4 linked regions of the Homo sapiens genome follow. The protein of the gene in region 1 purifies or fractionates together with the protein of each later gene. This does not show direct contact. Each region holds a gene or a part of one and is shown in the gene's direction. Other genes may lie near its edges.

Region 1 (7,022 bases):
GATGGCTGCATTTTGTCTAGACTGTGGAGTAGTAGCATCATGGAAGAAAATCAGTTTTCCAGAACCTTTAAGCTGCATGAATGCCTGTCATTTTACCAAGGGAAGCTTAGGATGAATTTTTTTTTCCCTGCCTGAGGTTTCTTTGTACAAATAGCACAGGAGGACCCCAGCCCCACAGCCCCATGCAGATGGCAGCCTGGCGGGGGGTCGCACCAGTCCTGTCCTCACGTTGGCAGATAGAGATATCTACTCTGAAGCCTCTGTAGGGGCCTGGGCACCTTTGGGAGCCTGAGCTGGAACTGAAGCTGGAGCTGCAGCCTGGGCCTTGGTTTGATCCTTGTCCTTGGCCTTTGGCCAGCACACCCTGAGCCCCTTGGCAATGCGGGCACGAGCATGCTTCCCAAGCTTGGGGTGGACAGTGTAGGCAAGTTGAGCTTGCGGCTGACACCCTTTGGGATCTTGGGCTTAACCTCCTTGGGCTTTAGGAGGGCCTTGATAGCCTTGGCATGTGCACTCATGGCCTTGGCACTGTTAGCCTGCATCTTCTTTAGGCCCTTCTTGTTGTGTTTCTTGGCAAACTGCATGTTCCTCAGGAACTTGGGGTCCACCCCCTTAAGAGATTCGTATCTTTGTGCTTCGGGTTTCTTGATACCATTTCTGTGCCATTTTTGGGACTGGTTGTGTGTGGTGTGGTTCTTGGACTTGGCCATGTCTGCACCTTAAGGCGCGGCTCCTGAAGCGCCTAGAATCTGAAGAGACAGGATGAATTTAATACTAAGGGGGCTGTTGTTTAAAGTGGGAAAGTTAGCACCACACATAACATGCATTTAGACACTTAGCATAATTAATTTGTTTATAAATGAATGTATCTGCCCTTTAGTTAATAAAGTTCTATATATGGACTGAGGAGAAAAAGGAGCGAGCATTTTGTGGTGCTATTTTTTTTTTTTTGGAAAGCCTGTATTTGGGGCTATGACCCTTTCTCATTGATAGTGACTTGAGTAGAGAGAGGAAGGGTAGATGGAAGTAGAAGAGCATACAGCAAAGGCATTTGCTGACGTTTCCACACTTTATGCGTATTTATGCCTAATAAATGTTTGTGGAATTAGCATAGCTGCCTGGACCTATTTCAAGCAAAAGGAAACAGGGCTTTAAATGGCTTTTAAAGCTTTACCTTGGCAATCCATAATTACCTTACTGTAATAGATATCTAAAATTTAATACTGTGGGTAAAGTGTTTCACATATTACAACCTTCTTTTTTTAAACTAATGTTAGGTTATAATAAGGATTTATCTTCGTCTTAATTGTAGATAATTATTGCAAGTCTAGGGGCAGTCTAAGCAAAGGAATTATTTTTAATAAAATCAGTGATTGGGCAGAAAAAAATTATGGCTCCCCTAATAGTAGTTTATGAACTTTTTGGAAATGGAGAAGAACAGCTGAAACTTGACAGTTGGCAAAGTCTGTCAAAGTATCTTGGATGTTGCATGAACTGTTAATTGCAGTGAAGGCAACTAAAGTATGGGTTTGTAAAATAGGTGTATCAGATCCCCTAAAAATTAAGGCATTCATGTATGTAAAATGAAGTCTCTGAAAAGTTTTGAAGCCTCAGTGAGGAGCCCCTGTTAGGTATGACCCCCACCCCCACCTCCAAATAGTATCTCATAATGACAGCAGTGAGTCAGTAGCTATTTCAGAACTATCACAGTAGGCAACAGAAATCAAGTAACTTCAACCACTTATTTCATGAAACCCTTTGTTTTTACTTAGCTCATTTTGGCAACCTAGTGCCATCAGCAATGGTAAAGAATTCTTTCCCTCCCTTCCCTTATTAAGAGCTACTTATACATAAAATGGGGCTCTCCCTGCTAATGGAATCTGTTAATGCTGTTTCTGATTTATCTCACCTGCCTATGGGAACTTCTGGAGTCCTTCCTTCCCCTCTTTCCCCAAATAACTTCCAGAAGCATGGAAATGAGTGCTGCTACATTGCAGCCCAAACTGAGTCTCTTTGCTGAAAGATGGGAAGCTGACACCTCCTTCTGCCTCAAACTGCAGGGTTCTGCTCTCTAGGGGTTGTAGCAAAAATGTGAAAATCTTGATCCAGCACTATAAATGGGTTTTATTGCAAAGATAACCACCCTATCATATCTGACAATAGACAACTTAGATGCAAGTCCTTAATTCGTCATTTGTTCATTTTACCAACTTTGAACCTTTGTTATAGTGCGTGTACTTACCTCAGTGCTGCTGATAGGAAGGCCAATACAATGTGCTCCTTCCCTTAGTGAGTTTATACTTTGGAAGTTGGGCAGACAGTCAAGCCTAAAATTAAAATGTGCAATGAAATTTTGTAGGAGCTATAATGTAGGGCATTATGGAGACACAAAGTGTGTGTTGGGGGGGCATTAGCTGCTGAGGGAAGGATAAAAAGGCTTTGTAGAGGAGGTGATAGTTGTTAAATACTGAAAGATGAGTACAAGTGAGCCTCTTAGACAAATAAGAGGGCATTCAAGGCAGAGAGAACAGTGATTGACACCACTAAAACGAGGAACTGCAAAGGAGTTTGGCATGACAAGCTTGTTTGCTTGAGCTAGCTCCCTTTGGTGTAGCAAGAGATAGGTCTAGAGCCTTATTATGCAGGGACTGGGTTGGAGAACCATGTAGATCAAATGAAAGATTGGATTATCCTGTAGTTTAGTGTGTTTAGAGGTTTTTTTGGCTATGACCCGTTGGAAAGATAAGCATCTTTACATTGCAACCCAATATGCTTGTATATAAATGATAAAATGTCACTACATAATACCCTTGCTTTGTATGGTACACTCTGGTAGTTTCTATTCTGTTCCGTTCTATTTTATTTTTAAGATAGACTGATGATGGTGACCCACTCAATTTATTTAATGACGCTGTGTTAGCAACTGGTAATTTGAAAAGCACTTCTCTTCTGTGTGAAGATTACTAAAGGGTTTTAAGCAGAGTAAGAACATGATCAGGGAAGTAGAATAAGAAAGCAATTTTAAAAATCATTTACAATTTGGTTTTGTGTCTTGTATCCTGTGGAAACACCAAGCCAGAACAATGAACTCTGGCTGGGTAGAGGAAGTGGACAGTTGGGCAGGCCCTGGAAGGTTCCGAAGTGGGGAGGGGAGGGATGGTGACTGAGAGATGTGTAGTTGGCTGAACGGGGCTTTTTCAGAATTAGGACATTTCATTGGAGAGGTAAGAATGTAGCAAAGAGCATGGTATGTTCTTAGCAGAGTCACTAACTATGGGTCATAAAATAGTGAATTTGGGAGTTAAGGGGTTGACAGAAGAAACTGTCCTTATTCATAGTTTATAGTTTTGAGTGATTAAACATCTCAGAAGAAAAGGTGGTTATATCCCAAAAGGTCTAACCTCTCTACTGCCATGTGATTTTTTTTTTTTTCAGTCTTTAGTGTTTAGTTGAAGTATTTATTTTTAGTTACTGGATTGTTATTTCAGATTAATATGACTAACTGGACAGAAGAGTAGGGAAAATGAGTGCCGAGTGCTTAATGTTTTCTGATATAATTTTTTTCTGATGTAGTTTTTAAATGACTATAAAACATTTTACATAGATTTATATCTCAGGTCGTATCTCGTGGAATGAAATGTGCAGTTTTTTTGTGTTGCATATTTGTAATGCCTTATGACCCGTGGCTAATATTTCTGTTTGTTTTTGAAAAGTTGAGTGATTTTGAGGCATTGCAAAGTTTCAGGTCTGTTAAATATGTTCATTTCAAAAGAATCTACATGTGATAAGGAATATTTATTTAGATTTTAGCCCATCTACCATCTAGAAGAATTGAGATAAAATTTTCACATCTATCTTACTGAATGAGTATTGCAAGAGTAGGTAAAACTGTTTTTTTTTTGTTTTGGTTTTTTTTTTTTTTTTTTTTTTTGAGATAGAGCCTCACTCTGTCACCCAGGCTGGAGTGCAGTGGCGCGATCTTGGCTCACTGCAACCTCCGCCTCCCGGGTTCCAGCATTTCTCCTGCCTCAGCCTCCCAGGTAGCTGGGACTACTGGTGCGCGCCACCACACCTGGCTAATTTTTGCATTTTTTAGTAGAGACGGGGTTTCACCGTATTGGCCAGGCTGGTTTCGAACTCCTGACCTCGTGATCTGCCTGCCTCGGCCTCCCAAAGTGCTGGGATTACAGGCATGAGCCACCGCGCCCTGCCAAGAGTAGGTAAAACTTTTTAAAAGCTAATCATTCAATGGTCTTCAGTATGTGAATAAAATCATATATATATATATTTTTTTGTTTGTTTGGTTTTGTTTTTGAGACAGTGCAGTGGCCCATGCTGGAGTGCAGTGGTGCCATCATGGCTTACTGCAGCCTTGACCTCTCAGACTCAAGCAATCCTCCTACTTTAGACTCCCGAGTAGCTGGGACTATAGGCTCACACCACCATGGCAGGCTAATTTTTGTACTTTTTGTAGGCATGGGGTTTCATCATGTTGCCCAGGCTCGTCTTGAACTCCTGAACTCAAGTGATCCGTCTGCCTTGCTGTGAGCCATCACGCCTGGCCAAAATCATGTATTTTAATCTTAATTTTTACAGCACGCCTCTCCATAGTCTATAAAATTAGGACATCCATAATGACTCTCTGTTAAAAGAGTCAACTTTATTGATGAACTTATGTTCTTAATTTTAGCATTTCATACCTTTTGATACTCCTTTTTCCGTCTGTCCTGAGTGTAACACATTTGTCATTTCTGTGCTCCTTCATGAAATGTCTGAGAAAGGAAAAAAAGATGAAACTGATAAGAATCAATGCTGTTTGTTTTAAGCAGTATTTTTGAGGGAAATTATCAACACATATAATCTTTTTTGCTTTGCCTTTTTCTTCTACTTGGATTTTTTAAAATCTTGTTTTTGAAAGTTTTTATCGCTTGAACCTGTGAGGCGGAGGTTGCAGTGAGCCGAGATTGCCCCATTGCACTTGAGCCTGGGCAACCAGAGGGAAACTCCATCTCAAAAAAATAAATAAATAAATAAATAAAAGTTTTTAAAAATTTGTTCACTTCTCTGGTAAGTACAATTTAGAATTAATTTAATTTTTTTTGTCTGCTAAACATTTCAGATAATAGAATTAATTTTATAGGGTCATCTTTTTTACTATTCTTTCAGTGAGGTTTTGTCCGCCCAAAAATGGATTGTGAAGCCAGTATGGCTCTTGCGTAGCTAAAATAATTTTATACATAGAACTAACATTTGACTTAGTTAATAACTGAATCTTATTTACCCTTATTTATGTTTTTTTCTATTAAGGTAGACTACTAAAGGAAGGCAAAAAGTCATTGTTTTCTGTCTTGTATCAGAAAATAAAATTGTTTATAAAACCCCCCAAAACCAGTAATCTAATCAATGTTTTATCTTCATAGTACACTTACCTTTTCATTTTCTCTACCTTTTAAAAAATCACCTTTATCTCTTAACACCTAATATTAATATTAGCTTTAAAAATTAGCTTGGCTTTACGAACATCTTATTTTAATGTTCTTTCATAAAACAAGAAGAGTTTCAATGTTATCTTTTGAGAAGTGTTGGCACCATGTCCTCAAGGCACAAAAGTTGTAAGAATTGAGGGCTTTCTGTAAAATTACCAAGCAAGAGTTAGGTAGACATTAAATACAAACAAAAAACTGTGCTTAGGGAACACAATTTCATTACTTTACAAGATCATTGAAAGTCATGTTTATTATGTCATGTCTATTGGCATGTCTGGATCCATGTGGTCACATGCCTCAGAGTCCAGAGGCCTGTAGAGGAGAATGTCCATGATTCCCCCCCTTTCCATAGAATGGTTTGTTCCTAATTTCTCATTGTCTAGTTGGGGAGTCTTTTTTGAAACAGAGTCTTGCTGTGTCACCCAGGCTGGAGTGAAGTGGCACCATCTCAGCTCACTGCAACCTCCATGTCCCAGGCTCAGATGATTCTCCTGCCTCAGCCTCCGGAGTAGTTGGGACTACAGGTGCACCACCACACCTGGCTAATTTTTGTATTTTTGGTAGAGATGGGGTTTCATCATGTTGGTCCTGACCTCAAGTGCTCCACCCACCCTGGCCTTTCAAAGTGCTGGGATTATGGGCATGAGCTACTGTGCCCAGCCTAGTTGGGGAGTCTTAATAGAAGTCTACTGAGAGACATAGCTCTGATACATATCTCTTTGGGTATTATACGCTGTGCTTCCTAACCCACAAGTTCATAGTGCAGTACATATGTGCAATATTAGTTGAAAGGATTTGGGGGAATTAGTGCTCATAAATAGAAAATCCTGATTTCTAGCAATTAGGCCGATAGTTGGATATACCAATTATTTTTCTGATAATTTTTCTAAGTAAATTTTTGGATTCTTTTATATTTACGTATATCTCAATCTTAAGTAGTTATTGTCTTTCTTCTGTTTTATTTAAGTATTTATAAGAGTTGTTCTGAACAAGACTTTCTTTGTGTGAGTTGGAATTTTCTGCCCAGTTACTTTCTAGCTTCCCTCATTGGCTCTTAGTAATGATCTTTAGGACATGACTATCAAAGACCTCAAAATACTCATATTAGGAATTTCTATCAGTCAGTCTTCCTGGAAGATAAGTCTGTACATTCCTAAATGTATATGGGACAAATATTTTGAACCTATTATAATATTTAAGTTGCTTAGCCTATCCCTTTACCTTTCTGTGCCCTTTTTTTTTTTTTTGCTTATTCTTTTGTAAAACAGTGCTGTTTTCTTTCTTACTCTGTTATGAATCACTGTCTCATGGCTTTTAACATTAAAATTTGTGTGCTTTGCTTAATCACTCTGCCAGCTCCCAGGATGTTTACAGATTGAGGATTCCTCCTACTCTTGTTTACTGAGTATTGCCAGGGTTCTGTATACATTAAGCTCAGTGGGACTACTCCCAAGTCACTCTTAAACTCGTCTTTCTTGAGATTCTGTTGATTTAAAAAAAAAAATTCTAGATCTCGCAGGCTGCTGTTTTCCTTAC
Region 2 (8,002 bases), on another chromosome or scaffold:
GGTCTGGCTTTAAAATATTCTTATTTTATGAAATAATGAGAATAGATAGAAGTTTTATTTATATTTATTTTTGTACCTTACACGGAAAAATTAAAAAGTTGATAAGCTTATGTCAGTTCCTAAAAATTCCTTGGAAATTTTACCAGTTCATGAAATAAAAAAGTCTGAGAACCAGTGATCTTTTACTAATTGATAAGATAGATTTGCAATAAAATATCAAGTAATTAGAATGCTCCTAGAATGGTCTTGTGGTTAATTAGATTTTCACATTGTAGGTTAACTTTTTGGTTTCAGCTGTGCTCATTCAGCTCAATTTGACATGCTGTACTGAAAGCCTCACTTATGCCAGTCATCATACTAAATGATGCCCATGCGATGATACATAATCCTGGCTTTGCTCTGTGAGAACAAACCAGACTAGTACAAGAGACAGGAAAAGAAACATTTAAGTTCTGTATTCAAAGTGATACCTATAACAAAATAGTATATATGTAGTAGAAAAGTAGCACAAAGAATAATTAAGTCAAGGAAGGGAGTGCAACTAGAGAAGACTGCATAAAGAGGGCAATGCTTCTATTGGGCCATCAGTTTGATGGATGGATTGAAGTGTCCTTCAGATGAGCAAAGAGGGGAAAGCTATTCTACACAAAGGGAATGGCATTGAAGCTTGAAAGAACATGATAGTTGATATTGAGAGAGCAGACACTTCCAGTGTCAAACGAGGGAGTGGTCAGGGAAGAAATTTGAGAAGAAGCCTATAGTCAGATTATAAAGAGACTTGTACGTTTTGCTGCGGTGTTTATATTCAGAATGTGCCTAGAGAAATCTCTAAAGGGTTTTAAGCAAGAGATAATTGGAAAGCTTTCTAAAAATGTATTAATATCCACATTCTACCCAGTAGGTGAAATATACTGAACACAATTGAATTTTTTACTGATAATTGCAGACCTTTCAGTGACATACTCAATGAATATCAGTTCTTATTTTACAAAGCAACACATTTAACTTTAGAGAGTGAAGGACTTGGACCTCCTCTGGGAGACCTAGGAGACTGTGGAACTATTTCCTGGAATTTTTTCATTAAATCAAACTACTGTGACTTATTTTCTTTTAACTTATTCTCATCAATATTAATGGGACAGGGGAAATGATTTTGGTTGACAGCTTCCATTAGTTGGATTTTTTTTTTGAAAAAAAAAAAAAAAAAAGACAGGATCTTGCTATGTTGCCCAGGCTGGCCTTGAACTTCTGGGCTCAAAGCAATCTTCCCATCTCAGCCTCCCCACTAGCTGAGATTACAGGTGTGCACCATCACACCATGCTCTGGATTTTTAAAAATTTTACTATAGAAAAATCTCTGGTGAATACATAGTCTCCACGCAAGAGCTTTGAAGGAAATAAAGGGTAAAAACTGTGCCCCTTATAGGTGGAGATTCATGACATACTCTCTGGAGAATGGATACATATTCATCATTTTCTCCCTATTCTTTTTTTTTTTTAGACGGAGTTTCACTCTTGTTGCATAGGCTGGAGTGCAATGGCAACATCTCAGCTCACCGCACCTCCGCCTTCCAGGTTCAAGCGATTCTCCTGCCTCAGCCTCCTGAGTAGCTGGGATTACAGGCACGCGCCACCCCGCCCAGCTAATTTTGTATTTTTAGTAGAGACGGGGTTTCACCATGTTGGTCAGCCTGGTCTCGAACTCCTGAGCTCAAGTGATTTACCTGCCTCGGCCTCCCAGTGCTGGGAATACAGGTGTGAGCCACTGCACTTGGCCCCCATTTTCTCACTATTCTTAACACATAATAGTCGCTATATAAGTGTGTGGTGAACTGGAAAGAATTTCCAATAGGAATGGTAACATAATTTTTCAGAGGAAAAATAATTACTGGTTAAACTATGGAACCTCTTTGAGGGGTACATTTGCATATAAACAGGGAGAATAGTGATCATAACATATTTCACTTTTTTTGTATTTTTTATTTTTGACACGGAGTCTTGCTATGTCATCCAGGCTGGAGTGCAGTGGTGCGATCTCAGCTCACTGCAACCTCCGCCTCCCGAGTTCAAGCCATTCTCCTGCCTCAGCCTCCCGAGTAGCTGGAATTACAGGCATGCGCCACCACGCCCGGCTAATTTTTGTATTTTTAGTAAAGACGAGGTTTCACCATGTTGGCCAGGCTGGTCTTGAACTCCTGACCTGAGGTGATCTGCCTGCCTCGGCCTCACAAAGTGCTGAGATTACTGGCACGGTGTGAGCCATGGTGCCTGGAGGTATTTCACCATTTAAAAGACTTTAACAAACATCTATATACAATAATTTAAAAAGCTTTATTTACATTAGCACATTGGAGAAGGGTGTGTGTGTGTGTGTGTGTGTGTGTGTGTGTGTGTGTGACAGAGTGAGACTCTGTCGCCCAGGCTGGAGTACAGTGGTGCAATCTTGGCTCACTGCAACCTTCGCCTTTCGGGTTCAAGTGATTCTCCTGCCTCAGCCTCCCCAGTAGCTGGGATCACAGGCCTGTGACCATTCCCACCAGCTAATTTTTGTATTTTTTGCAGAGATGGGGTTTCGCCATGTTGCCCAGGCTGGTCTTGAACTCCTGGCCTCAAGTCATCCACCTGCCTTGGCCTCCCAAAGTGCTGGGATTACAGGCGTGAGCCACTGCACCCAGCCGAGAAATATTCTTTTTTTAAAGAGTGGGGATTGGGCTTAGAATGAGAAACTAAGGTAGAGAGATAAAGTCTCTCTGAATGAGAAAGTACAACTTGTAAAATTCTCCAGGGTTAGAACTGGGGCTGTGTTCATCAACACTGAACATTCTTAAGAATAACCTCTACGTTGTAAGCTCCAGGTTTGTAGATTTTTAAAATTCTTCTTTGCTGTGAAATGCCAGTAGGAGTATTAGTACCAGGAAGTTGCATGTGTGGGCTAAAAAGTGATAAATGATCCTATTGTGGGCAAATATGAAATATTTAGAGAAAAGAATAACACAAATTATACTTGAAAGGTGATAATCTCAGCATAGTTGGTTCAATGCAAGTAAGAGAATCTAGAGGTTACTGTAGACTGCCTTCTCTAGTTTATATGCCCAGTCTGCTAGTGCAGCAAAAGAGGGCAGTAACAAGCTGGATATCATAGGGCAGGTGTTTTAGAAAGAACCTGAAAACATCACTTAGACCTTGAACAAAAGCTGCAGGTGTGTACATGCCTGAAACACTGGATATCTTTATCTCCAGAAGATCATACTAGATATCAGTACATAGTATCTTCTTCTTCTTATATTCTAATGTAGAATATTAGAACCCAGAAGCAGTCTCAGAGTTTGAGAGTGGTAAGTGAGTAAACCAGAAGTATTAGTTTAGCTTGGCTGCAGTTTTATTATACAGTAAAATCAGAATAGGCTAAGCATAGGGATTTAGTTATAGGGACTTAATAGGGAGGATGTGTGTATCTGTGAAGGCCATATAAATGCAACCCAGATAGTTCATCGTCTCTTGCCCCCACTAGTGATACCTAAACCACCTTCCTGCAACGTTCCCTTTTGTTTCCTGCTCTTTCATATTTTCGGGAATCCTCATGAAATTTTTCACCTGTATTTGGGGAAAAGTCCTATGAACTACCAACTACTGATGTTTACTTACCCTTCTCTGTCATCATCAAGCCCCTTTTCTAGGGTACTGCTGAGCACTGACACTTCCTTGGCACCATTAGATTATACTGGGGTATCACTGCAAATGTACTAAAGCCCCCGGGGTACACAGTCTTCAAGGTTCATCGGCAAAGAGGGAGAGAACACATAACCATTTTCCCCTAACATTCTTAGATGGGTACCGAAGCTGTACCTGTACTCAATTTTAGTGGAAATAAACCTTTTAGTTCTTACAGCTCCAGTGGGAAACTGGGGAAACTCTAAAGCAGACCCCGCACTAGGCTTCCCCATAATTTCTTCTCTTTTCAATGCGTGAGGTTCTGCTCCATGGTCAAGCTTCTGGTATCAGATTCCCTCTTTCCCTTAGACAGACTCGTTTTCTCCTGAGAGGCATCTCAGTTGTTCAAGTGACCTGGGGTGTTTTTCCTACAGTTCTAGCAAGGGGGAACGAAGTCCTACACTTTGAGGATGGCATAAGGGTACCATCTACTTAATTTTTTCAAAAAAGTAACAGGTCTCGTGGAAACGCGGGAACGTCACAGAGGACGTGACTTAAACGGAACTTGTAATGGAAATGATTTTCTAAATGAACAATTGCGAGACAAGCAAGGAAACCTCCAGGTTTGCAGATAACTTGATTAAAGCTCTTCCGGGTGGCAAAATGCCAGTGCAATCAATGGTATGAGTAGGGCGGACAGTGGATGAAACTTGTTGAGTAAATCTCAGGAGGAATTAGCACTGGACTTTCAGGTATTCTAACTCAATTCTAACCATTCCATTCTCTGGATCATTGGATAAGGTTCCGCAGGATCCGGGCGCCAGCTCTGGATACATTACTGATCGGGAGAAAATTTTGAATTTTTCTCTTGTCCCTTTCCAGCTTTCCTCAATATAGGATATGAGTTTGTCCTCGACCCCTAACAACATTTAAAGGTAAAGTCGCTCCTAGAAGGCAAAGCGGAGAGGACTTTGCGGCTGTGTTTCTCAAGCCCGTAAAGAGAGAGTAATAATGGTAGGGAGCGTGCAGACTAGCTCTTTCCTTGCCCAATCAAGTGTACAGGAAGATGTCCTTTCACCAATAAAAATAAAGTTCGCTTTCCGGAGGCGGGAGGGTGAGCCTTGACTGCCAGGGCTCCAAAGCAACGTTAGAGGCGAGGGCAGAGAATGATTAGAGGGAAGACCAACCCGGGAAAAGGGGCGGGGAGAAGGTAGGAGCAACTTTGAGCGGCGGCTGGCCAGGCCAGTGGAGGGCGAGGACTGCTGTTCCTGTTGTAGTGTTTCTCGCCAATCAGGAAGGCCAGGGGGCGGGCGGGGTAGGGAAGGGGTGGGAAGACCTCGCAGCACAGCCGGGCGCCCGTCGGGCTCTGGGAGAGAGCGAGAGAGAAATCCGGTTAAAATCAGAGTCGGAGGGAGGTTTAACCACAGATCGGTTCCGATCGGATTATTCCTTAAAGGGGACGCGCCATTGTCAAGAGAACGGAGCCAGGGGCCCGAGGGCGGGGACCGGCGGCGCTGGAGGAGCGAGGCAGCTGTACTAGGACTGGGAACGGGTAGGTGTTGACTGGGGAAAGGCGCTTCATTTTACTTTCTCTTCCAGCCCCGGGGCAGGCGCCGGGATGCCCGCCGCCGGCAGCCCAGCCTGGGCGGGAGACGAGGTCGTCGGCCCTCGCCAGCTGTCCTTCCTGGTGGGCGCCGAGGGAAGGCGGTCCAGGATGGCTGGCAAGCGGCGCGGCGCGGCCCGGGCCGGCGCTCGTAACGGACACCAAACCGCGGCGCAACCCCAGCCTCAACCGAAAGCCCGCCCGAGCTCCGGCGGTTCCGCCGGCAGCGCCGCGCGCCCGTCTCTCCCGCACGTCCCCTTCCCCTCCAGTGCCTGGCTCTTCTCGCGCGCGCCCGGGTACCCCTCGCGCGCCGCCTTCTCGCGCGTCCTGCTCTGGTCGCGCGCCGCCTCGCCACCGACTCGCGGGAGCCGCCCCGCGGGAAGGAAGGCGGTGGCAGAGGTGGAGGAAGACCGGCGACCACGGCTCCGCCGCCTCGGCTGGGAAGGGAGGGCTGAGGAGCAAACTTAGCGCGGCGGCTGGCGGGCCCCGGCGGGCAGGGCTGGCGGGGACCGGCGGAGCGCGCCAGCCCAGCCGGGCATTGTCCGCCTTTTCCCTTGCTCTGGTCTCTCCGCCCACTGCTCGCGGTCCTGGGGAGGGGTGCGGGCGCTGTGCCCGCGCAGCCCCGGGCCGTTGGCGTACCCCGGGACCCGGAGTCTTCCGGAGCCGGAGCCAGCCCTGCGGACACCGCGGCCACCGCCCGCGAGCTGACTCGGCCTGTAGATTGCCTGCTGCTCTCAGCCTCGGCACCGGGCAGGGTGCCTGGGCGCTGAGCTCTTCTTTGCAACTTTTATTTGCCGTTTGATGGAAGTTGTTGCTTCCGGGCGGCAGGTTCTTTGGGCACAGCCTGGTTTCCTGCGTTCTGGAGAGGCTGGTTTCTAGGGCGAAATGATTTATTGCTGCCGGTCTTTCCTGCCATCCTAGTTTAGTTCCTCGCCACCTAAAATCGCATTTTTGTGGATTTGCAATGATATGGGAGCATTAATCTTTCCTAGGCCAAGATTTGAAAAGAAAAAAAAGGGGGTGGGGGTTAGGGTGTGTGCTGGTGAGGAGCAAGAGTTCTTAGTAGAGCTGAGTTTGCCCTTACCTTTGAACTGCGGAAAATATTACTTCGATTCACTGGCTGGGGTTCTTTTGGAAGGGTAGGGGAAAAAAGACACAGCAAGACAGGTTGCCAGGGTCTGTCGGATTGGGGGGGAAAAAGGGTTTTGATGGAAGTAAAGTTGGTTTTATAAAATGCTGTGCTGCCTAGGAGATATCGTCTGTAAAGTTGATTCTGCTACTGAATTTACAGCCATTATAATTAGTACCAACAGCTTTTACTATTGATAAAAACTAGTATAAGACGTCTTTTCATCTTGAGCATTATCACTCTGCTTAATCTGTCAATACTTGCCGAGGAAATCAGAGATAGCACATTCCTTGTTAGAGGCCTTAGTGAAGAATGTTTTCATAAGCATTCATTTTTGACAGTTTCTTCTTGTGCAATACTTTATGTAGAGTACTTGCATGTGCAAGTTACAACCGTATAAACAAAGTAGCAGTGGGTGTGTTATTCTCTGGTCTTTTTTCTGCTACTCATTATCAAAAATAGCATTCCATCGTGTCTTGTCTTCCACTCTGAATTATTTTGTAAAATTAGTTCTCTAAAAGAGGGAATTCTGTTGGAACATGTGACCCAGTTTTTTTTTTTTTTATTAAAGCAGTCCAACTTTTTAAAGCGTTCATCGATTAATTTATTGTCTAGTAACTTCGGAGTGGTGTGGAACATTGTAAATTCACAGGCTCAGCAGTAACAATAGAGAAACTACTTGGGAAATTGGAAGCCAATATCAGATAATGTTTGAAATAAAAATCTATTCTTCTCACAGAATTTAGGAAATAAAGACACACAAAAACAAATTCTTTGGGTTCAAGTGATCCTCCCACCCCAGGCTCCGTAGTAGCCGGGACTACAGGTGGGCACGACTGCGCCTAGCTAAAATTTTTATTTTTTGTAGAGATGGTGGTCTCACTTTTTAATTTTTCGTATAGACGGCTGGTCTCCAACTCCTGGCCTCAAGCGATCCTTCTGCTTTGGCCTCTCAAAGTGCTGGGATTACAGACTGAGCCACCGTGCTTGGCCGTTTGTAGTAATCTTGATGGTATCTGGCATTGTTTCACCTAATATTTCTTCTTTTTTGTTTTTTTCTTTGATCCATTTCTGTGATAAGGATGTCAGGCAAGCAGCTAGGCATAATCTTCCTTCCCATCTCATAATAAAAGGAGACGGTTAAACCAAGTTTTTAAATGTCTGTCTTTGTTTACTTACCAATTTATTTAAACAATAAAAGAATTTCTCAACTTTTAGAAGAGAACATATGAATAAAACATTCAGAAATAATTATCTTTGAAATATCTAGACTGTATTTCCTGAAAAAGACTTTTTCCTCTTTTGTGCTTTCTACATTGTTTTAAACACATTGTTTTATATGCACACATTTCTTGAGTTATGAACTGTTTCTTGAGATCCTTGGGAGCCAGAATTATCCTCCATTTCTGTGCAGATTCACTGTATCACCTCGGACCTTTTTAGTACCCAATAAATGTCTTATTTTAGGTCTTTGTGACAGAAAAAGATAATGTCCTGTAAAGGCCGCTTGAGTTATTTAATTTTTTAAATAAACACCTTTCTGAACATTTTATACTAAAGGCCAGCAATTGGCTTACTGTTGGGGGAAGATATGTCAATCTAGAGGTTCTTTGTTCTGT
Region 3 (7,022 bases), on another chromosome or scaffold:
CGACCCCCGCGGCGGCGGAGCAGGTGCGGCCACGACCGGAGCGCCAGGAGTCAGCTGATCGCGCGGAGGAGCTGCCCAGGAGGCGGCGGCCTGAGCGGCAAGAGTCAGTCGATCAATCCGAGGAGGCTGCGCGGAGGCGGCGGCCGGAGCGGCAGGAGTCAGCGGAGCACGAGGCGGCACACAGCCTTACCCTGGGCCGCTATGAGCAGATGGAGCGGCGGCGCGAGCGGCGTGAGCGGCGCTTGGAGCGGCAGGAGTCCAGCGAACAGGAGATGCCCATCAGAGGAGACCTGGTCAAGGGGTGAGGTGCCCGCCTTATGACCAGAAAGTGAGGGGAGGGGAAAGCGGAGAGCTCCTAGAACCCCTCAGGCCCAGTGAAAGGGCTTCAGGGCTCAGAACTTCCCAAAGAAGGAGATATCGCCGCGGTACCCATTTTGCAGAGGTGTAAACTGAAGCTGCAAGATAATCGATGTGCCCATTGTTACACAGAAAGGGGAGCCCTTCCTGTTGAAAGAAAAGGCAGACTGCCTTTCTCCAGACGTAGGTTCTCGGCCCCTGGGTTGTGACTCCTGCATCAAGTCTCCCGGGTGCCCCGAGGCAGGGATTTTGTCCTCTCTGTGCCTCAGTTTGCCCACTGGGCTAATGGTGGAACCCTCACCTCCTTGATTGGAGAGGAGACCCTTTATCACAATTCTCTCAGCAGCCTTATGAAGTGGGGGCTGTTGTCTTCTCCATTGTATGACTAGGGCAACTGAGGCACAAAAAGGGCAAGTCACTCAGCTTAAACGAACCAGGACTTTCAGAATCCAGAGTTGGCCAGTGTGTGTTGTGCAGATCTGTCCAGTCAGCTGAGTGTGTCTCCAGAAAGAGGCCTTTGGTCAGGAGACAATGACTTCTTGATTCTTTTTAAATTGCACATTTCATGAACATTTGCTGAGTGCCCACTCTGCCTGGCATGTGCTGAGTCGAGCGGTGACTGAACCAGTCCCATCCCTGACTTTAGAGACTCACAGTCCATTGGGAAAAACAGGCTTGTCATCAATGATGACCGAGAATTATCTGGGCTGGAATGGGGGCGATTGGGGGACTGGAGAGTCAGGGGTGGGTGGAGAAAGGCAACGTTTGCAAGTTGTTCTTTGTGCTGCTTAAAATTCAAAGGGGCATCTGGGCGCGGTGGCTCACGCCTGTAATCTCAGCACTTTGGGAGGTTGAGGCGGGCAGATCACTTGAGGTCAGAAGTTCGAGACCAACCTGGCCAATATAGCAAAACCCTGTCTCTACTAAAAATGCAAAAATTAGCCGGCATGGTGGCGCACGCCTGTAGTACCAGCTACTTGGGAGGCTGAGGCAGGGGAATCGCTTCAACACAGGAGGCAGAGGTTGCAGTGAGCCGAGATCATGCACCACTACACTCCAGCCTGGGCAACAGAGAAAGACTCCGTCTCAAAAAAAAAAAAAAAAAAATTCAAAGGGGCGAGAGGTTTGGTCTTCCATTCAGCAGACACGTCCCAAACACCTGTGGTACCTAAGGCGAGCATCTGAGAGAAACAGCTGCAGAAGTGGGCAGGGGCCTGGCACTTCCAGCTAAGAAGTGGAGGCTCCTCTGCCCAGCCAGACAGGTCCATGGGAGAAGGAACCCTGGTTTCACTGGGTCTTTCTGTCCCCCATCCCCCAGGAAGGCCACCCTGGCTGACATTGTGGAACAGCTGCAGGAGAAAGAGGCAGGCCCAGGGCTGCCTGCTGGGGTAAGTTGAGCCTCGGATGGGTGGGGATAGGAGGACCCCTTTTTCAGAGCAGGAGGCAGGATCTCAGAAACAGCCAGTGCCTAGCCCTGGCAGGACCCATTCCCTACCTGGACCCTGCAGAGACAGCATGGACTCTCAGGGTCCCCAGAATCTGAAAATGTCCCCCTTAGAAAGACGGGGCACCTACCTAAGAGACCCCTACTGCCCCTCCACACACACACACACACACACACACACACACACACACAGACACACACACACAGACACACACACACAGACACACAGACACAGATACACACACAGACACACACACACAGACTCTTCCCACATCTGTCCTGGACTCCGTATTTCTTCAGCTCAGTGGGGTCCCAAATTTCTTCATAGCCTCATACACACACACACAGAAGGAAGCCCCAGGTTTCTCCTGCAGACAGTGGGGACACGCCCTGCTTGCACCCCCACCTCCAGAGATCTGGCTGCCTCTTTCCACCACCGAGAGAGATTCCAAACCAATGAGTCCTAACAGACTCACTCCCAAGACCCATGGGGCCCTAAGAATTGGGCCTCCAACCCTGAGGTCCTCCCATACTCGCCTCCGAGACAAATGGCCCTGTAGACAGATGGGACCCCAGACCCATGACTCCCCCAAACAGATGACCCCCACACCCTCTCCATGGACAGCACCCCTCTTCCCCCTCCCTTCACACAGCCGTCGCTGCCTCAGCCACGCGAGCTTCCCCCAGGTCGCCTGCCCAACGGGCTTGAGCTGCCCGAGCGGACACCTCGGCCGGACCGGCCCCGGGCGCGGGACCGGCCCAAGCCGCGACGGCGGCCGCGGCCCAGAGAGGGTGGTGAGGGCGGGGGAAGCCGGCGCTCGCGCTCCGCCCCGGCCCAGGGCGGCTCCGCCCCCGCGCCTCCGCCACCGCCCACTCACACAGTGCAGCACGAGGGCTTCCTACTGCGCAAGCGCGAGCTCGACGCTAACCGCAAGTCGTCCAACCGGTGAGCGTGTGGGCGGGGCTTTGGAAGGCGGGTCTCAGGCTCAGGGTGACCATTGCGTGGAGCGGTGGGACTGAGGAGGGGGTGTGGCTCAACTTCAGGCCCTCCAGCAGGTGGCGGTAGTAGGTGGGGCCAGAGCTGGGGGGTGGTGGTGGCTTAAATCAAGAAAGCCAACCAATGAGCAGGAGGGGGTGTGGTTTAACGTCAGGCCCTCCAACCCGTGGGGGTAGTAGGTGGGGCCAGATGAGGGGTGGGGCTCAACTTTGATGATTCCAACCAATGAACAGGAAGGGGCAGGACCTAAGGTTAGTGCATCTAATGGATGATGGGTAGAGCTTAGGTGGGAACAGAAGGAAAATGTTCTGAAAGTGAGTAAATTGGAACCTAACCTCTTAGCAACCAACCCAGGAGTTGATCAGCTAAATAGCAAAGAGGGAGGCATCTAGTTGAGAAGGTTTCAATGGCTTGTCGTGGAGCTTGGAGAGGTCACTCAACCAATGAGTGGGGTGGGTCTACCCTTGAAGTTTCAAATTGGGGGAGGGTCCGAAAACGGGCAGAGCCCAAACTAATGAGGGTAGGGGTTGGGAAGGGGGAGTCATCTCTTACAGGTTTCCAAATGAGGGTCTAGCCATGATGTGCCTGCTCTTGGGGAGTCCAGCTCCTGCTTGTCCACCCTCTTTTTGTCCAACTGAGAGGCAGAATCTGGGGACAAGTGGAGCCAAAAAGGGGTATCACCGGCCAGTAATGGAGTGAGTCCCAAGATATGAAGTGGGCAGGACAGATTCAGATTTTGCTAGTGGAATCTGTAGGTGGTCTTTCTTCCTCGTACCTAATGCCAAGGTAGGAATAAACAAGGGCACCTAGTATGTTTTGCTTTGGGAGGGATTCCTCCAGGATCGAGGCTTTGGATGACTGGAGAGACAGGAATTCTTTATTCCAGACAGTAGACCAATAGACTTTCCTTGAGAAAGCTCCATGAGTGGGGAGGATTGAGTGGAGCAAAGGCTTATGGAGGAGACAGCTTAAGACTTACCTTCAGGAAATTCAGTATGGGAGGGGATAAGGAAGGGAAATCTCAGCCTGGGCAAAGGCTTGATACTGAGAGACTTAAATGCTCCCCTCAGGGCAGCAACAGCCTTAAGGAAGAGCATTTTAGGTCCAACTAGGGCGCAACTAGGGCGCAAAGGTCCAGAGGTAGGAAGGCTCAGACATATTCAGACCTTGAGGATGTTAATGAAGAGTTATTAGGCAGAGTGCTGCGGCTCTGCCTTGAGCCCCATCTTGTCGCTCCAGGTCGTGGGTGAGCCTGTACTGTGTGCTTAGTAAGGGGGAACTGGGCTTCTACAAGGACTCCAAGGGCCCGGCATCCGGGAGCACACACGGTGGGGAACCGCTGCTCAGCCTGCACAAGGCCACCAGCGAGGTGGCTAGTGACTACAAGAAAAAGAAGCATGTCTTCAAGCTCCAGTGAGCCCCCCAATGGGCAGGAGGGAGGGATCCAAGGCTCAGCTTCAACTCCCAGTGGGACCCTGGCTTCCCTGGGGGACACTTGGTGGGCAGGTGGGCTGGGCCCCTTCCCCAGATCTCTGAAGTCCTGTGTCCCTTCCTGCAGGACCCAGGATGGCAGTGAGTTTTTGCTCCAGGCAAAAGATGAGGTGAGATCTGGTCCTTTCCTCCCTCTGTGTGGACCTCAGTAATGACCTGGCTGTCTGGCTCCTGACCCAGAGTGATGGGGCTGTGAGAAGGGACACTCACAGGCCAGAGTTATCAGGGCTGTAATGGGAAAGCCCACAGGCACTGAGAGCCCAAAGGAGGTTCCTAACCCAGTGGGGAGTGGGAAGGGCTTCAGGGAGGGCTGCCTGCAGATCCTGATGACAAAGTCCAACATCTTTGCCGTGGTCACTCAGGTGAGACTGGAATGGAGGGAGTTCGCTTTAAAAAGGGGTGATTTGGCCAGGCGCGGTGGCTCACGCTTGTAATCCCAGTACTTTGGGAGGCCAAGACGGGCAGATCACCTGAGGTCAGGAGTTTGAGACCAGCCTGGCCAACATGGTGAAACCCCGTCTCTACTAAAAAATACAAAAATTAACTGGGCATGGTGGCAGGTGCCTTAATCCCAGCTACTTGGGAGGCAGAGGCAGGAGAATCGTTTGAACCTGGAAGGCGGAGGTTGCAGTGAGCTGAGATGGAGCCATTGCACTCAAGCCTGGGGGACAACAGCGAGACTTCCTTCGAAAATAAAATAAAAATAAAAAGGGTGATTCAGAGGGACAGTGGGGGTCTAAAAAAAGGAGTGATTCAGGTTGGGCACCATGGCTCAGGCCTGTAATCCCAGCACTTTGGGAGGCCAAGGCAGGAGACTGCTTGAGCCCAGGACTTCAAGATCAGCCTGGGCAACACGGAAAGATCCCATCTCTATGGGTAATAATAATAATAAATTAGCCGGGAGTGGTGGCACATGCCTGTGGTCCCAGCTACTCAGGAGGCCGAGTGGAAGGATCACCTGAACCAGGGAGGTCAAGGCTACAATGAGCTGTGATTGTACTATGGCACTCCAGGCTGGGTGACAGAGTGAGATTCTGTCTCAAAAACAAGAGGGGGTGGGTGATCTAGGTAGAGGGAACTGCAAGTGCAGAGGACCAGAGGTGCAGTATTGCAAAGGGTTAACTGCTGGAGGGCAGAGTTCATGGAAGAAGGTCCCAGAAAGGTTCCCAGGAGATAGGTGTCTCAGGACAGGATGGGCCATTTGGAGGAGATTGGATTTTTTACCTAAGGGCACTGGAGAGCTAGGGGGGATTACAGTGATGTGTAAAAAAGATTCCTGGCTGGGCGCAGTGGCTTACGCCTGTAATCCCAGCACTTCGGGAGGCCGAGGCGGGTGGATCACCTGAGGTCAGGAGTTTGAGGCCAGCCTGACCAACATGGAGAAACCCCATCTCTTATGGTGCATGCCTGTAATCCCAGCTACTCGGGAGGCTGAGGCAGGAGGATTGCTTGAACCCGGAAGGCAGAGGTTGCAGTGAGCTGAGACAGCGCCATTGCACTCCAGCCTGGGTAACAAGAGCAAAACTCCATCTCAAAAACAAAATAAACAGGCCGGGCATGGTGGCTCACGCCTGTAATCCCAGCATTTTGGGAGGCCGAGGCGGGCAGATCACAAGGTCAGGAGATCGAGACCATCCTGGCTGACACGGTGAAACCCCGTCTCTACTAAAAATACAAAAAAATTAGCTGGGCATGGTGGCGGGCGCCTGTAGTCCCAGCTACTTGGGAGGCTGAGGCAGAAGAATGGCTTGAACCCGGGAGGTGGAGCTTGCAGTGAGCTGAGATTGCGCCACTGCACTCCAGCCTGAGCGACAGAGCGAGACTCCATCTCAAAACAAAACAAACAAACAAAACAAAACAAAACAAAACAAAACAAAAAAAGATTCCTTTGGCTACCTGGGTGGGTAGCCCAGGCCGCGGCCAGGGCAGGGACCCAAGTGGGAGAGCGCATGGCTGGGCCACACAGGCCTGTGGGGAGAGGAGGAAGAGGAGTCTGAGAGAGGCAAGCATAAAGGTGGTTTGAAGAGATGTTGAGAGTAATAACTAACACTTGTTATCTCATTCAATCTTCACAAGATGCAATGAAGAAGTGGGCTTTTTTTTTTTTTGAGACAGAGTTTCTCTCTTGTCACCCAGGCTGGAGTGCCATGGCGCAATCTCAGCTCACTGCAACCTCCACTTCCCGGGTTCAAGCGACTCTCCTGCCTCAGCTACCTGGGTGACTGGGATTACAGGCTTGCGCCACCATGCCCGGCTAATTTATGTATTTTTAGTAGAGACGGGGTTTCTCCATGTTGGTCAGGCTGGTCTCAAACTCCTGACCTCAGGTGATCCACCCGCCTCAGCCTCCCAAAGTGCTGGGATTACAGGCATGAGCCACCACACCCGGCCAGAAGTAGGCCTTTACCCACTACATGCCTTCTTTTACTTATCTGCACAATGAAGATTAAAAATAGTTTCTTGGCCTGGCATGGTGCCTCACACCTGTAATTCCAGCACTTTGGGAGGCTGAGGTGGGCAGATCATTTGAGGTCAGAAGTTCAAGACCAGTGTGGCCAACGTGGCGAAACCCCATCTCTACTAAAAATACAAAAAGTAGCCAGGCATGGTGGCACGTGCCTGTAGTCCCAGACACTCAGGAGACTGAGGCACAAGAATCTCTTGAACCTGGGAGATGGAGGTTGCAGTGAGCTGACATCGAGCCATTGCACTCCAGCCTGGGGGACAGAGCAA
Region 4 (7,022 bases), about 98 Mb from region 1:
CACGTGAAGAGAACTACATAGGCAGAGGCTTCAGGGTGAGCCCTGTCCAGAACCCTGCTTGGGTCAGGGAGCCGTCCAGTGTGTCCCAAGTGTGTGGTGTGGACAGGGTGGTCCAATGGAAAGGCAGGCTGGAGGGTTTGAACTGGGGTATGGTTTCTGCTGGGGGAGAGCTGCGGCTGGAGCAGGAAGAGGTGGCCGGAGGTGGGGAGCCAGGGGCTGAGGATGGAAGGCACCCCGGGGAGCCTAGGCAGGCCAAGACAGGTCCTCTCAGAGGGAGGCTTGATGTCTACAGCAGTCTCTAGGAACTAGGGTCCCTGGGCTCTGCATTAGTTTCTCATCAGTGCATGGAGAGAGACAGAGCCTGCTTCTCCCAGGGCCCTTTGTTCCCGTGGTGGGTTAGGGCAGCAGGACAGGTGGTGGGCCAGCTGTGCTGGAAGCATCTGTCAGGGCCAGGCTGGGGCTGGGGGTAACAGTTGGACCAGGAGCTCCCAGCCCCACAGCCCACCTGTGTTCCTTCCTGGAGGTAGGAAGCCGGGAATCCAGGAAGGGGAGGGGCTGAGGCCATTTGGCCCTGGCCACAACCTCCTGAGACGTCCCCTCCATCCCTCCCGCCTTCATTTCCTTTGTCCCTTCACTTCTGTCCTTTCTCTTCTTCCTCCTCTCCTGGTTTCTCCCTCTGCTTCTCCCCTCCTCTTTCTCTTCTCCCTTGCCCTCCCTTTCTGCCTCCCCTCCTCACAGCCCCAGCCTCCTGCCTTGGCACCTGGGGAATAGGAGTTTGGAGAAGGGGTTGAGAGCCCTTTCAAACTTCAGGGACAAGGCCCTTCCTCCTAGGCCCCGGCTCTCCTCCCTCCCAGAGGGTCCTCAGCCTGGGCCTGCATGGGGTGATGGAGGAGGCATCTCTGCCTTCCCTTCTGTGCAATGGTTGCTCTGTCACCGCAGCCTATCAAAAGGAGCCAGGGCACACAAAGCTAGGGAGGAGGAGGAAGGAGGAAGGCCACCAGGTCAGCTTTCTGTTAGAGCTCAGACAGAAGGAAAGGCCAGCAGTCTCAGGAAGCCTCAGCCAGGACTGAGGCAGCCTAGGGGCTGGAAGGCCTGGAGCTCAGGCTTGGCCACCCCGGGGCCAGAGTCTGGGCGAGAGTGACTGCAGTGACCTCATCCCCATTTCAGAGAGGCGGAGATTGAGGCTGAGGGCGGGTCCCCAGGGTCCTTTGTGTTCAAGGAGAATGCAGTTGGGGTGGGCCAGTCGTGTGCCAATTGCAGGGTTGCCATGGTTACTGGGGGATGCCCAGAGCTGTTGGGAGCACCAGGTTCTCTCTTCTCCTCCTCCCTCCCCGGGGGAGGGGCAGCGGGGACCAAGGCACGTGCCAGGTAAGTTCCTGGCACTAGCCAATGGGGGATGAGGATCCTGGTAGCCAGGGAACGGTAACCAAGGAACCGTCGCCTTGGAATCTCCATCACACACCCGCTCCACTGGGTTGTAGGCTGCCAGGGCCAGGGCCGGGATGCTGCGCACTGAGCTCGACCAGCCAGCAATTTCTCCCCTCACTGCCTGCGCCCCCCTGACCCAGGCCTCCAGCAGTACCCTGCTGGGCTCCCGCCTGAACCGATGCCTGGCCCTGTTGTCATGGCTACAGCAGGAGCCCTCCCCGTTCCTGTCCTACCCACTCCATGTCCCTCTCCCTCCCCAGAGCCGTCCCCACCCAGAATTGGCGGCCTGGGCCCTGACAGTTTGACAGCCACCCCTCCCTCTCCCCAGGGCTCTGTACACATATGAAGATGGCTCCGATGACCTCAAGCTTGCAGCATCAGGAGGTAGGAATTCCAGCCATTCCCTCGCCGCCTTCTCCACCCCCTCCTCCTGGTTGTTTTCTTCCCCACCCACCTGGCTGTAGGCCACCTCCCTGCCTGCACCCTGCAGCCCCACACTTGTCTGGATCTGGCGGGTGTCCTTCCTCCAGTCATCCCTGTGTCCCCAGGGTGGGGAGGAATCTCAGAGCCTTGTTGAATGTTGGACTTCTGAGGCTGAGCCTCCAACAGGGAAAGTGACTTATCTGAAGCCACACAGCTGGGACACTTTGGGGGAAGGGCCCTATTCACCGCCTTCCCCAGAGCCAGAAGGCTTGATTGTGCCTCTGGGCACTGGCACCTGGTGAGACATGATGATGTGTGAAGAATGAGACCTGAGTGTGAAGAACAAACACTTCCTCAGTCCTACCCCCAAATCAGGCCCTGCAGGAGTCACAGGCAAAGCTACATCCCTGTGCGCCACCACCCCCACACATACCAACACAAAACTGGGACCCACAGACCCCAGAGGCCAGAAGACCCCTGGGGGTGCCTGTGGAGGCCTGGAGGAGTCTTTGCTTTGAGTTCCAGGCTCTTTTTGGGAAGGGTTTAGGAGGCAGAGAGACCTGACACTCTCCTGATTACCCTAGAAGGGGGCTTGCAGGAGCTTTCGGGACACTTTGAGAACCAGAAGGTGATGTACGGCTTCTGCAGTGTCAAGGACTCCCAAGCTGCTCTGCCAAAATACGTGCTCATCAACTGGGTATGCGGCCGGGGCTGGGGAAGGGGGCTGAGGGCCCAGAGCTGCTCATCAACTGGGTATGCGGCCGGGGCTGGGGAAGGGGGCTGAGGGCCCAGAGCTGCTCATCAACTGGGTATGCGGCCGGGGCTGGGGAAGGGAACTGAAGGCCCAGAGCAGTCGCCCTCCCCGTCGGCCCTCTGACACCCGTGGAGAGGGAAGCCCACCCTCTTCCCACCCCGGGGAAGATGCACCCTATCGTGTAGGGCCCCCCTTGTCCTTTCCTGACCCCCTCTTTGCTGGGTACTTTGCAGGTGGGCGAAGATGTGCCTGATGCCCGCAAGTGCGCTTGTGCCAGCCACGTGGCTAAGGTGGCGGAGTTCTTCCAGGTGCGTGTCAGGGGCCAGCGCTCTTGGGGGTGGGGACAGCCACCAGGGTCTGCGTGCTGGGGTGGGGATGGCGGGAGGATGGTGCCGCCTGAGCACTGCCGTCTTCTTGCGGAAGGGTGTCGACGTGATCGTGAACGCCAGCAGCGTGGAAGACATAGACGCGGGTGCCATCGGGCAGCGGCTCTCTAACGGGCTGGCGCGACTCTCCAGCCCTGTGCTGCACCGACTGCGGCTGCGAGAGGATGAGAACGCAGAGCCCGTGGTTAGTGTGTGTTTGGCACCCGTGGGCTCTGCCTGCGTGGCCTGGTGCCCGAGTCTGGCCTGCCCGGTCCCTCTTAGCTCTCACCCTTTAGGTGTCGGGGGTTCCTGGGGCATTCAGCCTGCTTATGCTGGGTCCTTCGACACTGCAGGGCACCACCTACCAGAAGACGGATGCAGCTGTGGAAATGAAGCGGATTAACCGAGAGCAGTTCTGGGAGCAGGCCAAGGTATGGAACCCTGAGCCCGGCCTGGCTGAGCCACCCCTCATGGACCCCATGGGGCAGGTCTGAGTCCCTCACTGCAGTGGCATGGCCCATGCCACGTGCCCCGCCCCCAGCGCTGGGTTAGGGAGGGGCTGGAGGGGCAGGGTCCAGGCGCCTAGGCTCGGGGCCTACCCTTGTTCGCACCGGGGCTTGCAGAAGGAAGAAGAGCTGCGGAAGGAGGAGGAGCGGAAGAAGGCCCTGGATGAGAGGCTCAGGTTCGAGCAGGAGCGGATGGAGCAGGAGCGGCAGGAGCAAGAGGAGCGCGAGCGGCGCTACCGGGAGCGGGAGCAGCAGATCGAGGAGCACAGGTGAGCCTGCCCGCCCGGAGCGCTCCAGGGGCCCCCGGGCGCACCCTGACGGGTGCTGGCTGCTTATCGTTCCAGGAGGAAACAGCAGACTTTAGAAGCGGAAGAGGCCAAGAGGCGGTTGAAGGAGCAGTCTATCTTTGTAAGTTCTTTGCCAAGGCTCCCGGTCTCTGGGTCAGGGAAGTGAGAATGGTCCCTGTGTTCCTGGGCCTTGTGGGGAGATCAGTGGCTCAGGGACAGTGGTGGCTGTTCTGGGGAGCTGCATGGGCACAGGGTGCCATGGAGCATGAGGCCTGGCACCTCATCACGTGGGGCTCTGGCCTCTGGCCGTGGAAAAAGACTACTTTGGAGAAGCTTGTGCTCTAGATTGGAAGAGAAACTCCATCTAGACCCAGACCCTCACTGACCAGGCTCCCCCTCCCCTGCCCTGGGGTTTCTCGGCGATTAGACACTGTTCTGCACTCTGAGGGGCCACAGGAGTGAGGCAGGCGGCATGGGTGAGCCTGGGCCAGTGCTGAGCATCTGCAGGCAGTGTGTACCATCTCCTTGGGAGCAGCATCTCCCTGGGAGCAGCCCCTTTGTTCCAGGGGTACTGTCTGAATCTCCACACATTGGGAATGGCCCGTAGGTCCTGTGGATTGGTCCCTGAGAATCACAGCAGAGTCACATCTCCATGCTTTGAATTTAGTATTTTGGAAATAGCTAATGTCATTCAGGACTGAGCATGGCTCAGTTCAGGAAGGGAGGTGGGTTGATACTCATCTGGATTGGGACTGTAATGGGCAGATGCATGGCTGTGGGGACTCAAACGGGCTCCGGAGTCACCCACAGGAGGCTGAGAGAGAGGAGGCAAGACAGTCCTGCAGGCAGCAGCATTAAGTCACTCCAGTCACATCTGCCCTTGGATGGGGTGGGGATGATGTGTGGCTGGTAAGCTCCATCCTCAGTCATTCATTCAACACACACCTGCCACCTGCCACATAAAGAACATGGTGGAGAACGAGCTGGGTAAGATCTTTTTTTCATAAGTTGATTCATGTATTTTTTTTTTTTTTTTTTGAGATGGAGTCTCACTCTGTCGCCCAGGGTAGAATGCAATGGCGTGATCTTGGCTCACTGCAACCTCCATCTCCCAGGTTCAAGCGATTCTCCCGCCTCAGCCTCCTGAGTAGCTGGGATTACAGGCGCACACCATCATGCCTAGCTAATTTTTGTGTTTTTGTAGAGACTGGGTTTCACCATGTTGGCCAGGATGGTCTTGAACTCCTGACCTCGGTTGATCTGCCCGCCTCGGCCTCCCAAAGTGCTGGGATTATAGACGTGAGCCACCGCGCCTGGCCACATGTATGTAACTGTGGCAAAATACATAAAATGTACCATTTCAGTCATTTTAAAATCTGCATTTCATTAAGCGGCATTAAATTCATTCACATTGTAGGATAACCACCACCACCATCCATTAAACACAAATTCTGCCCTTCCCCACTCGCCAGCTCCTGGCAACGACCATTCCACTTTCTGTCTCTATGAAGTTGACTACTCTGGAGACTGCCTATCAGTGGAATCGCACGGTGTTTGTCCTTTTGCGTGTGGCTTATTTCACTTAGCATGATGTCCTTAAGATTCATCCATGTTGTAGCATGCATCAGAATTTCCTTCTTTTTGAAGGCTGAATCATATTCCATTGTATGGATATACCACATTTTATTTATCCTTTCAGAGTGAGGTTTTTTAAAATTTTTTTATTTTTTAAATTTTTTTGAGACGGAATCTCGCTCTGTCGCCCAGGCCGGAGTGCAGTGGCGCCATCTCAGCTCACTGCCAGCTCCGCCTCCCAGGTTCACACCATTCTCCTGCCTCAGCCTCCAAGTAGCTGGGACTACAGGTGCCCGCCACCACGTCCGGCTAATTTTTTGTATTTTTAGTAGAGACGGGGTTTCACCATGTTAGCCAGGGTGGTCTCGATCTCCTGACCTCATGATCTGCCCACCTCAGCCACCCAAAGTGCTGGGATTACAGGCGTGAGCCACTGCACCCGGCCTGCCTCCCAGGTTTAAGTGATTTTCCTGCCTCAGCCTCCCAAGTAGCTGGGATTACAGGCGCCCACCACCACGCCTGGCTAATTTTTGTATTTTTAGTAGAGATGGGGTTTCACCATGTTGGCCAAGCTGATCTTGAACTCCTGACCTCAGGTGATCCACCCGCCGGCCTCACAAAGTGCCGGGATTACAGGCATGAGCCACCGCACCCAGCAGATAAAGTTTATTATTTATTTATTTATTTATTTATTTATTTATTTATTTATTTATTGTCTTTTTAGTAGAGATGGGGTTTCACCATGTTGGCCAGGATGGTCTCGATCTCTTAACCTCATGATCTGCCCTCCTCGGCCTCCCAAAGTGCTGGAATTACAGGTGTGAGCCACCTCACCCAGCCAAGTTTATTTATTTATTTATTTTTATTTTTTTGAGACAGAGTCTTGCTCTGTCGCCCAGGCTGGAGTGCAATGGCACAATCTCAGCTCACTGCAACCTCTGCCTCCTGGGTTCAAGCGATTCTCTTGCCTCAGCCTCCTGAGTAGCTGGGATTACAGGCGTGCACCACCATGCCCAGCTAATTTTTGTATTTTTAGTAGAGACAGGGTTTCACCGTGTTGGTCAGGCTGGTCTCGAACTCCTGACCTCGTGATCCACCTGTCTCGGCCTCCCAAAGTCCTGGAATTACAGGCGTGAGCCACCGCACCCTGCCTGATAAAGTTTATTTATTTATTTATTTATTTTTATTTATTTATCTTTTTTAAGATGAAGTCTCACTCTTGTCCCCCAGGCTAGAGTGCAATGGCGCCATCTCAGCTCACTGCAACCTCTGCCTCCTGGGTTCAAGCGATTCTCCTGCCTCAGCCTCCCAAGTAGCTGGGATTACAGGTGCACGGCTCCATGCCCGGCTAATGTTTGTATTTTTAGTAGAGACAGGGTTTCACCATGTTGGCCAGGCTGGTCTCAAACTCCTGACCTCAGGTGATCCTCCCACCTCGGCCTCCCAAAGTGCACTGCACCCAGCCCTGATAAAGTTTATTTTTTTGCTAACATTTCAAACATACACACATGCAGGTAGACAGAATAGTGTTGTGAACCCCCTGAGCTGATTTATTTTCACCAGTTATCAACATTTCAGGTAAAGTCTGAAGGAGCTTACCATTATTTTATAGTCCCATCTGGCCCTTCAAGTATAGTTCACGTGAGAGTGACAGTGGACATTCTAGCAGGTCAGTGTGGTACCC

Evidence for each region.
Region 2: the proteins of HOMER1 (region 1) and FRYL purify together in Homo sapiens (affinity purification with mass spectrometry; 3 studies listed by BioGRID and IntAct, with this or other methods). This does not show direct contact.
Region 3: the proteins of HOMER1 (region 1) and SPTBN4 purify together in Homo sapiens (affinity purification with mass spectrometry; 3 studies listed by BioGRID and IntAct, with this or other methods). This does not show direct contact.
Region 4: the proteins of HOMER1 (region 1) and DBN1 purify together in Homo sapiens (co-immunoprecipitation; 4 studies listed by BioGRID and IntAct, with this or other methods). This does not show direct contact.

The regions. Positions count from the first base shown.
Region 1 is NC_000005.10:79,504,122-79,511,143, reverse strand, and holds part of HOMER1 (homer protein homolog 1), read left to right. Parts: intron 1-126; exon of another isoform or gene 127-757; intron 758-7,022. UniProt on the Homo sapiens protein: Postsynaptic density scaffolding protein. Binds and cross-links cytoplasmic regions of GRM1, GRM5, ITPR1, DNM3, RYR1, RYR2, SHANK1 and SHANK3.
Region 2 is NC_000004.12:48,777,279-48,785,280, reverse strand, and holds the start of FRYL (protein furry homolog-like), read left to right. Parts: upstream 1-5,001; 5' UTR 5,002-5,203; intron 5,204-8,002. UniProt on the Homo sapiens protein: Plays a key role in maintaining the integrity of polarized cell extensions during morphogenesis, regulates the actin cytoskeleton and plays a key role in patterning sensory neuron dendritic fields by promoting avoidance between homologous dendrites as well as by limiting dendritic branching.
Region 3 is NC_000019.10:40,567,982-40,575,003, forward strand, and holds part of SPTBN4 (spectrin beta chain, non-erythrocytic 4), read left to right. Parts: coding exon 1-301; intron 302-1,675; coding exon 1,676-1,745; intron 1,746-2,454; coding exon 2,455-2,747; intron 2,748-4,037; coding exon 4,038-4,211; intron 4,212-4,356; coding exon 4,357-4,399; intron 4,400-7,022.
Region 4 is NC_000005.10:177,463,634-177,470,655, reverse strand, and holds part of DBN1 (drebrin), read left to right. Parts: intron 1-1,756; coding exon 1,757-1,812; intron 1,813-2,435; coding exon 2,436-2,548; intron 2,549-2,838; coding exon 2,839-2,913; coding exon of another isoform or gene 2,914-3,028; coding exon 3,029-3,175; intron 3,176-3,323; coding exon 3,324-3,401; intron 3,402-3,593; coding exon 3,594-3,745; intron 3,746-3,820; coding exon 3,821-3,884; intron 3,885-7,022. UniProt on the Homo sapiens protein: Actin cytoskeleton-organizing protein that plays a role in the formation of cell projections. Required for actin polymerization at immunological synapses (IS) and for the recruitment of the chemokine receptor CXCR4 to IS.